Linked DNA regions of Homo sapiens: region 2 is linked to region 1. The links come from fine-mapping of genetic effects on gene expression. Tissue or cell type: whole blood. Region 1 holds a variant in brackets; the other region holds the start of a gene. All regions are shown on one strand. Distances are between the middles of the regions.

Region 1 (8,260 bases):
AGGCCACACAGCCAGGGCTGAGGGACACACTTAAGAGCAGGCCAGCTCGCTTGGACATTGGTCCTCGTGGGAACATTCCAGAGCATAGGCTACCTACCAGAGCAGGCCATGGGCATCTGTATTAGTCCGTTTTCACGCTGCTGATAAAGACATACCCGAGACTGGGCAATTTACAACAGAAAGGTTTAACTGGACTTATAGTTCCACTTGGCTGGGGAAGCCCCATAATCATGGCGGAAGTCAAGGAGGAGCAAGTCCGGTCTTACATGGACGGCAGCAGGCAGCGAGAATGAGGAAGATGCAAAAGCGGAACCCCCTGATAAAACCATCAGATCTCGTGAGGCTTACCACCATGAGAACAGTATGGGGGAACCCGCCCCCGTGATTCAATTATCTCCCACTGGGTCCCTCCCACAACACACGGGAATTATGGGAGTACAATTCAAGGTGAGATTTGGGAGAGGACACAGAGTCAAACCATAGCATCCAACAGGTGTTTGTTGAAGTAATAGTTTTTGAGTACTTAACCACTTGCAGGGCATGATTCTGAGTGCTTGGTTCATCTAATCCTATGACTATCAGATGGGCACCAACTTTACAGGATGTCAATGACCTTAAGCTGTTGAACTTCAGGGTATCTTGAGTTTCCTCTTCTGGGACATAAGGACCATGAGAAGGAGAAGTAAAGTAGCAGCAGCTAGGGCCATAGAGAAATATCAAACTTGAGTTGTATTCTCTCATTGATGGGGAAACTGAGACAGGGACAGAGTTGATGATTTCTTTCTGAGATACAGTAAGGGGGAATGGGGGACAGAGAAATAGGAGATAAGACCAACTGCTCCCCTCTCCTGACCTCCTGCCCCGTCTGATCCCGTAGCATCCTAGGCCTTATCATCATAACTCCGATCATGGTTACAGGTATTTTCTTTCCTTTAAAACACTTTTTATTTATTTATTTATTTTAGATGGAGTCTTGCTCTGTTACCCAGGCTGGAGTGCAGTGGCGCAATCTCGCCTCACTGCAACCTGTGCCTCCCGGGTTCAAGTGATTCTCCTGCTTCAGCCTCCTGAGTAGCTGGGATGACAGGTGCCCAACACCACGCCTGGCTAATTTTTGTATTTTTAGTAGAGATGGGGTTTCACCATATTGGCCGGGCTTATCTGGAACTCCTAACCTCAAGTGATCTGCCTGCCTTGGCCTCCCAAGGTGTTGGGATTACAGGTGCGAACCACTGCATCTGGCCTGAATTTGACTATTCTAGATACTTCATGTAACTGAAATCTTACAACACTTGTCCTTTAGTATCTGGCTTGCTTCACTTAGCGTATGTCTTCACGGTTCGTCTGTGTTGTAGTGTGAGTCAGAGTTTCCTTCTTTTTTGTGGCTGTATAGTATTCTGTTGTATGGCTCTGCCACATTTTGTTTATTCATTCGTCTGTTGATGGACACTTGGTTATACCTTTTGGCTATTGTGAATGATGTTGCTATGAACATTAGTGTACAAGTATCCGTTTGAATCCCTACCTTCAATTCTTTTGGGTCTATACCTAGGAGAGGAATTGCTGGTTATATGGCAACTCTACGTTTAACTTTTTGGGGAGCCACCAGGCTGCCTGATTGTAGTTTGAATTTGCAGTTCTCTTACTGTGAGGTTGAACATCTTGCCGCATGATTGGACTCTTTGGCGTTCTCTTACCACACACTCTGTGTGCATGAGTCAGGCCCGTGTCAGGGCTGGGGCGTTGGGTTTTCCCTTTTGCCTTTCCTGTTGGGCTTTCCCTGCCACGTGCCTGGCGTAGTAGCTATTTCATCAGTTCTTCTGGAAGGACCGTTCCGAGAGCGCTGAGGGCCATTTTCTGCCTCTCAGCCAGATCCTCCAGGGAGCTCTGGCTTTCCGCTGTCTGTACCTTCCTCTCTTTTACCCCACTACCTCCCAATGTCATCGGAGATACCATTTTATTCATTCATAAAATCTCTGCTGAGCCCTCACTGTTTTCCTGGGACATCTAGAGAGACCCCCCCCCCACCCCGCCCTTTTTTTTTGAGATGGAGTCTCCCTCTGTTGGCAGGCTGGTGTGCAGTGGTGCAACCTCAGCTCACTGCAACCTCCGCCTCCCAGGTTCAAGCAATTCTCCTGCCTCAGCCTCTCCAGTAGCTAGGATTATAGGCATGAGCCACTACACCTGGCTTATTGTTGTATTTTTAGTAGAGACGGGGTTTCACCATGTTGGCCAGGATGGTCCAGAGAGACCCTTTGTGATGTGGGTGATTAGCATGGAGTGGCCATCATCCACAGGTGTCTGTCCACAAATGTACTCCCTGAATTCCAGTGGTACCTGTGACATTTGTCCAGCAGAATTTGTCAAACACGTTAAGCAAAGGTTAATGTTCTGTCCCAGAGACGGTAAGAATTGACAGCCTAAGGGGATGTGTTAATCTTTTTTATTTTTATTTTTTGAGATGAGTCTTGTTCAGTCACCCAGGCTGCAGTGCAGTGGTGCGATCTCGGCTCAGTCATTGCAACCTTCACCTCCCGGATTCAAGTGATTCTCCTGCCTCAGCCTCCCGAGTAGCTGGGATTACAGGTGCCCACCACCATGCCCAGGTAATTTTTGTATTTTTAGTAGAGATGGGGTTTCACCAGGTTGGCCAGGCTGGTCTTGAACTCCTGACCTCAGGTGATCCACCTGCCTTGGCCTCCCAAAGTGCTGGGAGGATTACAGGTATGAACCACTGTGTCCGACTTCTCTCTCTTTTTTTTTTTTTTTGAGATGGAGTCTCACTCTGTCATCCAGGCTGAAGTGCAGTGGCGTGATCTCGGCTCATTGCAACCTCCGCCTCCCGGGTTCAAGTGATTCTCCTGCCTCAGCCTCCTGAGTAGCTGGGACTACAGGTGTACATCACCACACTTGGCTAATTTTTGTATTTTTAGTAGAGATGGGGTTTCACCATGTTGGTCAGGCTGGCCTTGAACTCCTGACCTCATGATCCACCCGCCCTGTCCTCCCAAAGTGCTGAGATTACAGGCGTGAGCTGCCGTGCCTGGCCTTTTTTAAAAAATTGAGATATAAGTTCATGTAACATAAGTTGGCCATTTTGAAGTGTATAGTTCAGTGGCATTTAGTACGTTCACAATGCTGTGCAACCATTACCTCTATCTAGTTTCAAAACGTTTTGATCACCCCAAAAGGAAAACCTGTGCCCATTAAGCAGCCATTCCCCACACCCACTAATGTCACCACCCCCATAGTCCTAGGCAACCATTAGTCTACTTTCTGTCTCTGTGGAGTTGCATATTTTAAAAATTTCATATAAATAGAATCATATATATGTGACCTTTTGTGACTGGCTTCCTTCAGTTAGCATAATATTTTAGAGGTTCATCCATATTGTGGCATATACTTGATTCCCCCCGACCTTTTTTTTTTTTTTTTTTTTGAGACAGTCTTGGTCTATTGCTGAGTTGCTGAGGCTGGAGTGCAGTGGCATGATCTCGGCTCACTGCAACCTCCGCCTCCTGGATTCCAGCGATTCTCCTGCCTCAGCCTCCTGAGTAGCTGGGATTACAGGCACACGCCACCATGCCCGGCTAATTTTTGTATTTTTAGTAGAGATGAGGTTTCACCATGTTGGCCAGGCTGATCTGGAATTCCTGGCTTCAAGTAATCTGCCTGCCTTGGCCTCCCAAAATGCTAGGATTACAGGTGTGAGCCACCGTGTCCAGCCCTGACCTGCATTGTTAATGCCCAGCATTTAAAAATAAAAAGTCAGGCAAACTTATTAACCTCCTTAGGGCTTCTCTTGGGAAAAACAAAGGGAAGACCAGCAATAGTAGGCCCAGATTCCTGCCGAGCAACAATTGGCTTGAGCTGGAAGCAGCTGTCAATTCTGTAGGGGATATGTGTGCTCTATTTGGGGGTTTTCTTATACTTGTTCCTATAGGAATTGAGTTAGGAATTATTGTCATGGTATGTGAGAAGTGGTTCCAGCTACTTGGGAGGCTGAGATGGGAGGATCACTTGAGCCTAGGAGTTCAAGGGTACAGTGAGCTATGATCGCACCACTGTACTCCAGCCTGGGCAACAGAGAGAGGGAGAGACCTTGTCTCAAAAAAAAAAAAAAGAAAAAAAAAGAAAAAATAATAAAAGAAAAAATATAAGAAGATGCAGACTCTGCTTTTCTGTATAGACTCAGAGATCAGATCACACCATGTTTTGCAAGATTTTTTTAGGATGTCAACTGGAGGCAGGAATTAGACAGCAGCCTGGGCCAGGAGGAGAGGGGATCCTTTCCTGTCCCTGCCCGTAGGAGCTGGGCCAGCTGACCCTTTCTCTTTCTGCAGGTGGCTCCGCTGCCGGATGGGAGTGCCCCAGTGTGCTGGATGAAGCTGGCGCATGCACCATGTCATCATGTGTCTCTAGCCAGCCCA[G/A]CAGCAACCGGGCCGCCCCCCAGGATGAGCTGGGGGGCAGGGGCAGCAGCAGCAGCGAAAGCCAGAAGCCCTGTGAGGCCCTGCGGGGCCTCTCATCCTTGAGCATCCACCTGGGCATGGAGTCCTTCATTGTGGTCACCGAGTGTGAGCCGGGCTGTGCTGTGGACCTCGGCTTGGCGCGGGACCGGCCCCTGGAGGCCGATGGCCAAGAGGTCCCCCTTGACACCTCCGGGTCCCAGGCCCGGCCCCACCTCTCCGGTCGCAAGCTGTCTCTGCAAGAGCGGTCCCAGGGTGGGCTGGCAGCCGGTGGCAGCCTGGACATGAACGGACGCTGCATCTGCCCGTCCCTGCCCTACTCACCCGTCAGCTCCCCGCAGTCCTCGCCTCGGCTGCCCCGGCGGCCGACAGTGGAGTCTCACCACGTCTCCATCACGGGTATGCAGGTGCGTGAGCCGGTGGTGAGCCAGGTCCTAGGGGTCCCTGGTGCCCTTCCCTGCCCCCAGCAGGGCCTCTGTGGAAGGTTGGGCTCCCCCAGAAGGATCTGAGTGCCACGGTTGACCTAGGAGTTGACTCCAGGGAACCTTGGGGGCGGCTGGGGCCAAAAAGGGGCCCTAGGGGGGTCGTGAATCAGCATGGGGAAGGGAAGGCAGTCAGCAAAGGGTGGGTCATGGAGCCGATTACCAGTGTGGAGTGTGGGCCGCTGGGGCTTTTTCCTTCCGTGGGACCCTGGGGAACAGCACAGAGCAGCAGCCTCAGTCATCCCACCAGGGGCAAGGGAGCTGGGGTATTTATACTCATGGGTGAGGGCTGCTGGGGCAGGTGTGTGTGACCCCCTGTGGGTGTGGACAGAGCAGTTGCAGGGCCGGAGGGAGCCTCCAGCAAAGAGACTGAGGTGTGGGCGAAGGTGTGATGGAATGAGGCGGGTCACTGAGAGCCTGGCGACGACCCGCCTGGCCGAGCGTGTGTTGGCACCAGGCACTGGGTTCAGCACTTGCTGTGCATTTCTCACAGGACCCTTACCGTAAACCCTGCGGGGATACAGAGAACTCAGATCCTCACCAGGGTTCACAGGGCCCTGTGTGGTCTGACCCTTTCCCATCCCTCCTGCCATTCTGCTGCCAGCTCCCTAAGCTCCCTCTGTTCCTGCCTTCACATTCCTCGGAATCCAAGCTCTTGCCTTGGGTCTGTACTCTCGCTGTTCCTTCTGCTTGGAACCACCTCCCCCACCACCCCATGCCAACTTTGTAAGGCCTATTCCGATAATGTCCAAGTCTCAACTCCAGTATCACCTCCTCCAAAAGGCTTCCCGGGCCACCATCCCTAAAGCACCCTCCAGCCTCTCTCTGCCCCATGGCCCTATTTGCTTTCCTTCATAACGTTAATCAGCATCTGATTATCTGTGCGTTGGTTTAGTTGTTTATTGCCTGTCTCCACCCAGCCAGAACGTAAGCTCCATAGGATCATTTCATCCACCTCCACACCCTATCCCATCCCCAGAGCCTAGCACAGTACCTGGTGCATAGTAGGAGCGCAAAAATATTTGTTGAAGGAACGAATGAATTTAATTGGAAGAAGACCCAACATCAGGATGCCTTTCTAAAGGGGCTTTTTTTTGTTGTTGTTGTTGAGACAGAGGGTTGCTGTGTTGCCCAGGCTGGAGTGCAGTTGCGTGATTTTGGCTCACTGCAACCTCCACCTCCCAGGTTCAAGCTATTCTCCTCCCTCAGCTCATGAGTAGCTGGGACTACAGGTGTGCACCACCATGCCCAGTTAATTTTTTTTTTTTTTTTTTTTTTTAAGTAGAGATGGGGTAATGCCATGTTGGCCAGGCTGGTCTCGAACTCCTGACCTCAGGTGATCCACCTGCCTCAGCCTCCCAAAGTGCTGGGATTACAGGCATGAGCCACTGTGCACTGCCAAAGGGGCTGATTTTGAAGGGGCTATAGGGACTACATTTTGAAGGCCAGGAAAAACTTTCATAATTGGAGATGAAAATTGGGCCCTGGAGAGTTGAGAGGAGGGAGAATTCACAGCATGAGCCAAAAACAGAGCTAGGACCTATGAGCAATGGCTCCTTTTTAGCTTAGCTTCTTTCACAGCATCATGATTTTGAGATTTATCCATGTTGTGGCGTATATCTGTAGTTCCTTTTTATTGCTGAATAATTTCAATTGTATGGACGTACCACAGTTTGTTTATTCATTTACCTGTTGAAGGACATTTGGATTGCTTCCAATTTTTTATTATTACAACTAAAGCTGTTATTAATATTTATATGCAAGTCTTTGTAAACACATTTTCACTTCTATTGGGTAGAGTGGCCTGTGGTACGGTAGATGTTTGTTAAGAAACTGTCAAGGCCTGGTACAATGGCTTATGCCTGTAATCCCAGCTACTTGGGAGACTGAGGCGGGAGGATCACTTAAGACCAGGAGTTTGAGACCAGCCTGGGCAACATAGGAAGACCCATCTCTACAAAAAACAAAATAGGCTAGGCCCAGTAGCTCACGCCTGTAATCCCAGCATTTTGGGAGGCCAAGGCGGGAGGATAACCTGAGGTCAGGAGTTAGAGACCAGCCTGGCCAACATGGAGAAACCCCATCTCTACTAAAAATACAAAGAATTTAGCTGGGCGTGGTGGTGGGTGCCTGTAATCCCAGCTACTTGGGAGGCTGAGGCAGGAGAATTGCTTGAATCTGGGAGGCGGAGGTTGCGGTGAGCTGAGATTGTGCCATTGCACTCCAGCCTGGGCAACAAGAGCAAAACTCCATCTCAAAAAGAAAAAAAAGCCAAAGTTTTAATTTTGGTGAAGTCCAATTTATCATTTGTTTCTTTTGTCTGTACCTTTTTTGTATTATCTAAGAAACCCTTGTCTACCCCAAGGTTGCACAGACTTGCTTTTCTTGTATCACTTTATGTTTTTACAGGACAATGTAGCCAAGGATTACTTGTTTGATTTAAAATTTACTTTTTAAAAGTAGGAACAACCTTCTTTAAAAAATGGGTTTTACAAGAGTCCACAGTGTGTGGTTACATTTTGACAAAGTACAACAAGCAAAATCAGCGTTGTTAGAAGTCAAGAGAGTGGCCACCTGGGGGAGGGCAGAGGTGCGAGTGGCTTCTGGGAGCTGGGGATGTTCTCTTTCTTGATTTGGGTTCTGGTTACCTGTATGTGTTTAATTTGGAGAAATGTATCTAGTTGCAAACTTTTTTTTTTTTTTTTTTGAGACACAGTTTTACTCTTTTGCCCAGGCTGGAGTGCAATGGTGCAATCTCCGCTCAAGCAACCTCCACCTCCTGGGCTCACGCGATTCTCGTGCCTCAGCCTCCTGAGTAGCTGGGATTACAGGTGCCCACCACCACGCCTGGCTAATTTTTATATTATTAATAGAGATGGGATTTCACCATGTTGGCCAGGCTGGTCTGGAACTCCTGAACTCAAGTGATCCTCCCACCTTGGTCTCCTGAAGGGCTTGTAGGTGTGAGCCACCGTGCCTGGCCTCTAGTTGCAAACTTAAAATTCATTTTGCACGTGTCTCTCCTTACTCTCTAGGACTGTGTGCAGCTGAATCAGTATACCCTGAAGGATGAAATTGGAAAGGTAAATATCCCTGGGGCTAGGCTGGCTTTCTGCATTCACCAGGGGCGTTCAGATACTGTGGAGGGAACGGGGTAAAGCTGGGAGCAGGAGAGGAGTCTTTGAAGGCGAGGTTGGTGGAGAGGGTTTTGTCATTAATGATCTAGGTTTTTGGTTTAGTTTTGTTTTCTTGTATCTTAAAATTAAATATGTTTCTGCAGAAGCTCAGAAAGCTTCCAACGAAATTCCATAT
Region 2 (8,000 bases), 22 kb before region 1:
GCAGCAAGAGCAAAACTCCGTCTCAAAAAAAAAAAAAAAGAATTGCAACTGTGAGACCAGGCAGCAAGAGCAAAACTCCGTCTCAAAAAAAAAAAAAAAAAAAGAATTGCAACTGTGAGACCAGGCAGCAAGAGCAAAACTCCGTCTCAAAAAAAAAAAAAAAAAGGAATTGCAACTGTGAGACCAGGCAGCAAGAGCAAACCTCCGTCTCAAAAAAAAAAAAAAAAAAAGAATTGCAACTGTGAGACCAGGCAGCAAGAGCAAAACTCCGTCTCAAAAAAAAAAAAAAAAAGAATTGCAACTGTGATGTTTCTGTCCTGTTCTAATTAACTTTAATAAGGAAAGCACATATATTGATGGGGGTTTTAGCTTTGTGCTAATTTTAATTAGTTAGCATCATTGAAGACTTATGTACCAAGCACAGAGCTAGTATCTTTACATACATACATCGTTAGATTTAAACCTCATGGGAAACCTGTGAGCTAGATACTATTATTATCCCCATTTGACAGCTGACGAAACCAAATTGGGAGAGATCAAGTCATTTGCCCAAGGCCACAGAGCTGGTAACTAGTGAAACTGGGATGTGAACAAAATCTATCTGACTTCAGGGTCATTGCTGTCACCCACAATGCGGAGAGTATACAAAGGTTTCAGATGTGGTACCTGCCTAGATGCCAGGAAGATATAGGTCTATTGGCAAGTCAAAACACAGAGTGAAAAAGGAAGGAATAAAGAAGGAAGGGAGGTGGCTGAGCATCAAATAAATGGTACAGTCCTTGCTTTAAGACATCAGAGAGAGGAGCGGGCAGGGAGGGCCTGGCTCACAGCATTTCAGGAAACTATCAGGAAAAGCAACTCTTGAGCTAGGGTTTGGATTTGTAGGGGCACTTCCCAACCTTTCTTACTTAATTGGCTTTTAAGTTTACACAGCTGTGTGTATATCTAAGTTTCTGCCTGTGTGAGCTACAGTGTTCTAATAAAACACAGGCAATTTAGTAACATGATGTAAACATACAGAATTGTTTAACAAGTACCAGGAAAAGACATCCAGTAACAGGAAAGGACACCCAAATCTATTTTGGTTACCTTAGTAAAGCAGGGTTGCCAAACTATTTATTGCCCATAAGCTAAATCTGTCATGCCACCTGTTTTTTATGGCCTGCTAAGAATGGTTTTTACGTTTTTCTTTTTTCTTTTTGTCAAGATGGGTCTTGCCATGTTGTCCAGGCTGGTCTCAAACTTCTAGGCTCAAGTGATCCTGCCCCCTCGGCCTCCCAGAGTGCTAAGATTGTAATCACGCGTGTAGGTGTAAGCCACCACACCTGGCCTTTCACATTTTTCAATGGTTAAATAAAAACCAAAACAGTAATATTTTGTGACTTATGAAAATCATATGAAATTCAGTTTTCAGTGTCTGTAAATAAAGTTTTATTGGAACACTGCCGCATGCATTCATTTACTATTTCCTGTGGCTGCTAGGATGGCAGGGTTGAGTAGCTGCATTACAGAGCCTATGGCTTGCAAAGCCTAAAATATTTACTATCTGGCCCTTTACAAAGTTTGCTGACCCTGCCTTAAAGTGCCCCAGATAATCTCCACCAGGCCTGATACATATTTTTTTTGGGGGGGGGGGGGGAAATATGAGAATATAGAAAAATACGGGACTATGCATCCCCCATTCAGAATTGACTATTGCTAACAGTTTGCCATTTGCCTCACAGCCATTTATAAGTACTAAAAGGAATAAAACTTTACAACATTCCTTATGCTCCCTGTCCCGTTCTGTGCTTTTTTCCTTCTTTGTGGCACACTGTCATGAATTTAATGTATATTCTTCTCTTTGACTTTAAAAATCTTGTATGTAAGCATGTGTCCATGAACAGTATCTACTGCATGGGATTTTAAGGTACACACAAATTGTACATCATGTTGTATTCTGCAACTTGCTGTTTTACTCAACATTATGTTTTTGGGATTTCCTTATGTCAGTACAGATCCAGTGCACCCCTTTTATCTATTAGATGGTATTCCATCAAACAACTATAATGAGTTTCATTTATCCATTCCTTTGATGAACATATAGGAAGTTGTTCCCAGGTGGTTTTTTTTTTGTGTTTTTGTTTTGTTTTGTTTTGTTTTTGAGATGGAGTCTTGCTCTGTCACCCAGGCTGGAGTGCAGTGGCATGATCTCGGCTCACTGCAACCTCTGCCTCCCGGGTTTCAAGCGATTCTCCTGCCTCAGCCTCCTGAGTAGTTGGGATTACAGGCGCGCGCCACCATGCCTGGCTAATTTTTGCATTTTTTTTTTAAGTAGAGACGGGGTTTCACCATGCTGGTCAGGCTGGACTTGAACTCCTGACTTCGTGATCTGCCCACCTTGGCCTCCCAAAGTGCTGGGATTACAGGCGTGAGCCACTGTGCCCAGACTTTTTTTTTTTTTTTTGAAACAGTCTTGGTCTGTCGTCCAGGCTGGAGGGTAGTGGTGCGATCTCTCTGCCTCCCGGTTCAAGTGGTTCTCGTGCTTCAGCCTCCTGAGTAGCTGGGATTACGGGCACCGCCACCACACCGGGCTAATTTTTGTATTTTTGATAGAGATGGGGTTTCACCATGCTGGCCAGGCTAGTCTCGAACTTCTGGCCTCAAGTGATCTCTCCGCCCGGGCCTCCCAAAGTGCTGGGATCATAGGCGTGAGCCACCATGCCCGGCCTCAGGTTTTTGCCATTTCCAGCAAATGCATGCACGTTGAGTAACATCAGAAGAGGTGGATGGCCGAGCATGTTGGCTCATGCCTATAATCCCAGCACTTTGGGAGGCAGAGGCAGGAGGATCACTTGAGCCCAGGAGTTTGAGACCAGCCTGGGCAACATAGGGAGAACTCTGTCTCTACAAAAAATAGAAAAAATTAGCCAGGTGTGGTGGTGTGTGCCTGTAGTCCCAGCTACTCAGGAGGCTGAGGCTGGAGGATCACCTGAGCCTGGGGAGGTCGAGGGTGCAGCGAGCCGTGATCGTGCTACTGCACTCCAGCCTGGGCAACACAGAGAGACCCTGTCTCAAAACAAACAAACAAACAAACAAACAAACAAACAAAAAAAACAAAGAAAAAAAAATGGGAGTGGGCCGGGCGCGGTGACTCACACCTGTAATCCCAGCACTTTCGGAGGCCAAGGCGGGTGGATCACGAGGTCAGGAATTCAAGATTAGCCTGGACAACATGGTGAAACCCCATCTCTACGAAAAATACAAAAATTAGCCAAGTATGGTGGCCGGCGCCTGTAATCCCAGCTACTCGGGAGACTGAGGCAGAGAACTGCTTGAACCTGGGAGGCAGAGGTTGCAGTGATCCGAGATCGCGTCACTGCACTCCAGCGTGGGCGACAGAGCGAGACTCCGTTTCAGAAAAGAAAAAAAAAAAAAAAAAAAAGGGAGTCGGGGTGGAGCTCTCATTGGCTCGTTGCATGTGAGTGTCCCTACGGCCTAGAAATACAAGAGAAGCACATCGGAACGGGCTGGAAATCCACCCAGTTAACTAGAGGGCTTTGAACCTTTTATTAACTTGGAGGTTGACTCTCCTGTCAACTCGATTCCCTTTTGGCTGTTTGGCAGGGTCAGTGAGACATCCCCTGGGTCGCTCGACCCCGTAGGACGGTTCAGGGAGCCCTCCAGGTCTTCGTTTCTCCTCTTCCCCGCACAGTGCTGTTATCCAGCTGGGGGATCCAACGCACACTTAAGGCTCCAGCAAAGTAAGTGCCAAAAAGGGGAGAATGGGAAGAATATGCTGTATTTCACAAAAAGCATCTAAGTAGCCATCTGGAAAAGCCAGAATGAACTTCAATGGTGCATCCAGGTGGGCTGGGGATGGGAGAGGAACGCCTTCCCCCAGCCTTTAGGGCCGGCCCTGAGCAAGTGGTCAGTCGGCAGGCAGCTGCGGAAGGGGGCTCCCCCGAGTCGGTGGTGGCCCAAAGTCCAGGCCGCATCCACCGCCCGGCGCCTAGCGCAGGGGCAGCAGCCGGGTCGCCACAGGAGGGGCCCCGGGTGTTCTTGCCGGCTTGGGGGAACTTTCCCAGGGTCAGCCCGGAGGCGCCCTGCAGCCCCGGCATTTGGCTAAACAAAGCAAGCGCTGCCGGCGCGGCCCGCCCGAGGGCGCCGCGGGAAGAACCTGGGCAGGTGCGCGCCGCGGGCGAGCGGGTACAAAGTTGCGGCGCCACCTCCTGCGCTCCGCGCCCCTCCAGGCTCTCCTCCCAGCCGCCTCCGATCCTCCCGGCCGGGCCTCTCTTCCCCCGTTCTTCGCCTCCTCCCTTTCTGCTCCTTGCCCTTCGCCTCTTCGCTACTTTCGTCTTTGCAGGCTCCCGCCTCCCCACCCCTCCCCGGCGCAGGGCCGAGCCGGCGGGGGCGCGCAGGGGGCGGTGCGCGGCGGGCGCGGGCGGTTCCGCTTTCGGGTTTCCCGCCGCCGTGGCCAATCCCCGCGCTGCCCGGGGCGGCGACGCGCCCAAGCCGAGCCGGGCGGCTCCTCCCGCCCCCGCCCCCCGCGCGCCCGCCGCCCGGGCGGAGGAGAGGAGCGCGCGGCCGCGCAGAGCAAGCTGAGCCGAGCCGAGCCGAGCTGGGGGCGCAGAGCGCGGGAGGCGGCGGCGGCGCGGAGCCCAGGTGAGCTGGCGGTAGCCGGGCCCGGGGCAAGGGACGCAGCCGCCGCGGCCCCGGGCGCCCGCTCCGTTTCCCTCTCGAGGCGGGGGACCGCCGCCGGCATGGCACACAAAGCCCGGAGGCTGGCCTGGGGCTCCCAACACGGAGGGACCCCACGTGCGCCTCCCCACGCCCCGCCACGTGGAGGGACACGGTCCCCGACAGCCCTTCCCCCGCGTCCTCTGGGCGCCCTGGGCCTCGGGATGGCCTCCTCGGCTGGGCCGCGCCCTGTCCGGGTGGCAGGGGCGGTCCTGGAGTTTGGAACCGGGGTCACCGGGGGCCGGGTCCGTCAGGGTTCGTGGAGGCGGCCTAGGCCCAGCCCCTCGCGTTTGACAGGTGGGGAAATCTGGAGCGTTCCGGGGAAGAGAGGACCAGCGGACTTGGAGCACCCCCACCCCGCAGCCTGCCTGTCTCGGGGCAAACCCAGGCCCTGGTGGCTTGGACACCAGGTGGCAGGACCCTAGGCCAGCAGTTGTGGGGACCTAGGGGACCTTTGGCTGTCTTCGGTCTGCCCTTTGACCACCCCCACCGCACCTCTTCTCTCAGCCGGAGCCTCACAGGCTTGGTCCTTCTGACCTAAATTCACCTCGGGGTTGCAGTATGCTGTGAATGCGGAGAGGCGTCCGCCTGACTCTCAGGGACACTGGACCCAGCCCCTCTCAGCATTGGGGCTCTGTGCCTGGGGTGCCACCCGACCCAGCCTTGAGCTTTTCCTGGCTTTCCCCCAGCCCCTGCACTGCCTAGCTGGGGAAGTGGGTGCTTTCACAGCTCTGCCAGCCTGCCCTCCTGGCCACTCTCACTTAGTGCTGGACAGGATGCAGCTCAGCCCCTCCGATCTCCCCGAGAAGGCTGAGCTTTGGGGAGGGCGTCTCAGTGCTATCAGCAAGAGAGGGATACCTGGCCTCCGGATGGGACCTGCAGCGTCCATCTCCCTACAGGCTACTTTTACCTTCCCCAGCCTGGTGTTTGGAGTCTCCACGCAGGGGATAGAAACTTCAGGTGCCCTAGAGCTGTGCTGCCATTTACCACTCCCCCTCCCCTAGCTCTGCCCCCAGAGGAGAGAGAAGAGGATGGCTTTATGTCCCCATAAGCTCCTTTGTTCCTTGGAGGAGGCGGGGGCTGCAACAAGGGGAGGGCTTTGGGGGAGTTAGCCACCCTCTTCCCTAATCACCCCACAAAAACATGCAGTTTCAGAATAAATAGTGTGCATGCCATGCAAATGCAGCTTTAGGGCAAGCCCCACATACCCCTTCCAGACTGCTGCTCATACACCCTTCCTATGGAGGAAGCAGGCATTGGTGACACACACCCTTCCTATGGAGGAAGCAGGCATTGGTGATGAGGACGCAAAACATATTTTTGTAATGAAGAGTAATAGCCATCATTTGATGAGCCCCTAACTTGGATAATAATAAGAATACTTATTTATTTATTTTGAGACGGAGTCTCTGTTGCCCAGGGTGGAGTGCAGTGGCACAATCTTGGCTCACTGCAACCTCCGCCTCCCGGGTTCAAGCGATTCTCATGCCTCAGCCTCTCCAGTAGCTGGGATTACAGGCGCCCACCACCATGCCTGGCTAATTTCTGTATTTTTAGTAGAGAAGGGGTTTCACCATGTTGGTCAGGCTGGTCTTGAACTCCTTACCTCAAGTGATCCGCCTACGTCAGTCTCCCAAGTGCTAGGATTACAGGCATGAGCTGCCACCTGGCCCTGGACAATAATAATAATAACAGTATTAAAAACTAACATCTATTGAGTTCTTGCTGCCTGCCAGATTCTGTGCTATGTGTTACATGCATTATCTCATTTAATGCCTACCAAATCCTACAACGTAGGGAATTTTAACCCCATAGTAGAGATTAGGAGACTGAGGTTTACAGAAATCCTGCAGTGTTGCTAGGATTTAGCCCCATTTTATAGAAGGGCTCAGAGAAGTTAAGTAACTTGCTCAGGGTCACACAGCCAGTGCAGGCATGTCAGGCCTTAGAACCTTTGTGCACCTGTTCAAGAGCAGAGACCCTGGCAAGGCTGCCCTGAGCTTCTTGAGGAGCCCAGGAGTTTGTTTTGTTTTGTTTATTCACTACATCAGTGTTTGCCGATGCAGCTCTATGCAGGGTCTGTAGTACTGCCCATCCTTAGATATGGCTAGTGGGCTGGTAGCTAAATATAGTCACTAATAACAATGCACTAGTTCTCATCCGGGGGTGGTCCCACCCTCCTGGCAGGGATTTGGGAAAGTGTGGGGGCGACTTTTGGTTGTCAAAATGATGCTAAGCACTCCTGGCTTTTAGTGGGCGGGAGTCAGGGATGCCTACTAAAGTGTCCTGTAGGCAGGCCAGGGCCACGACATAAAGAATCACCCTCCCCTGGCTGGGCGTGGTGGCTCACGCTTGTAATCCCAGCACTTTGGGAGGCCGAGGCAGGAGGATCACCTGAGGTCAGGAGTTCGAGACCAGCCTGGCCAACATGGTGAAACCCCATCTCTACTAAAAATACAAAAATTAGCTGGGCGTGGTGGCACACACCTGTAATCCCAGCTACTTGGGAGGCTGAGGCAGGAGAATCACTTGAACCTGGAAGGCGGAGGTTGCAGTGTGCTGAGATCGTGCCATTGCACTCCAGCGTGGGGCACAAGAAGGAGACTTCCTCTCAAAAAACAAACAAAAAACAAAAAAAAATCACCCTCCCCCAAATGCCAGCAGTGCCACTGTTGAGAAACACCACAAGGAATGAGTGCTGTTGTGATCGAAGGAGCACAGGGCACTGAGGGTTCTGGAGAAATCTCCTCAGACTGGTGTGAATCTGGGAGGCTCCCTGAAGGAGGTGTCATTTGTGCAGAGCCTTGAAGGATGGGCCAGAAATGGGAGATGGGATGGGAGTAGGAGGGGAAGGGGATAGGGTGGGGTGACCTAGCAGGGAACTTTGTGCAGTAGCCGGGGGTTTCCTCTTTGAGAACCTCATCCTAGATGGAAGATGAGTGGCCAGACACCACTCTCAGGGGAGAGGACCAGGCCAAGTGGGGCAGGCCAAGCCTGTTTTCAAGGCATTTTGGCTCAAATTTTAACATGGGCCACAGAATCACCATTATTCTATCAACTCATTTTATGGAAGCCTCTTTATATGAAGGGCTCAGAGAGGCTGAGTAATTTGCTCAGGGTCACCTGTGATCTTCTTCCCGCCCCAGCATACTTTCTTCTGGTGGTTATGGGAAACATTTCATTTCCTGATCCTGGGGATTTGGGGCAAATGCTATTTCAGATTTTCCTTTAAATCAGAGGGTCTTATATTGCTTATTGCTTTGCTTTGTTTCTTTTCTTTT

Evidence for each region. PIP is the estimated chance that this variant, and not a neighbour inherited with it, causes the effect.
Region 2: it holds the start of CAMKK2, and the variant in region 1 is fine-mapped to the expression of CAMKK2 in whole blood (TOPMed, PIP above 0.99).

The regions. Positions count from the first base shown.
Region 1 is chr12:121,270,669-121,278,928 of GRCh38, reverse strand. CAMKK2 (calcium/calmodulin dependent protein kinase kinase 2) reads left to right here. Exons shown (of 17, transcript NM_001270485.2): 2 at 4,344-4,873; 3 at 7,984-8,031. The coding sequence starts at 4,403. Among named protein-coding and RNA genes, the nearest start is that of CAMKK2, 22 kb to the left of the region's middle. The variant G/A (reference allele first, on the strand shown) is at 4,431.
Region 2 is chr12:121,293,282-121,301,281 of GRCh38, reverse strand. CAMKK2 (calcium/calmodulin dependent protein kinase kinase 2) reads left to right here and starts at 4,573. Exons shown (of 17, transcript NM_001270485.2): 1 at 4,573-4,644. RefSeq lists a silencer at 3,888-5,037.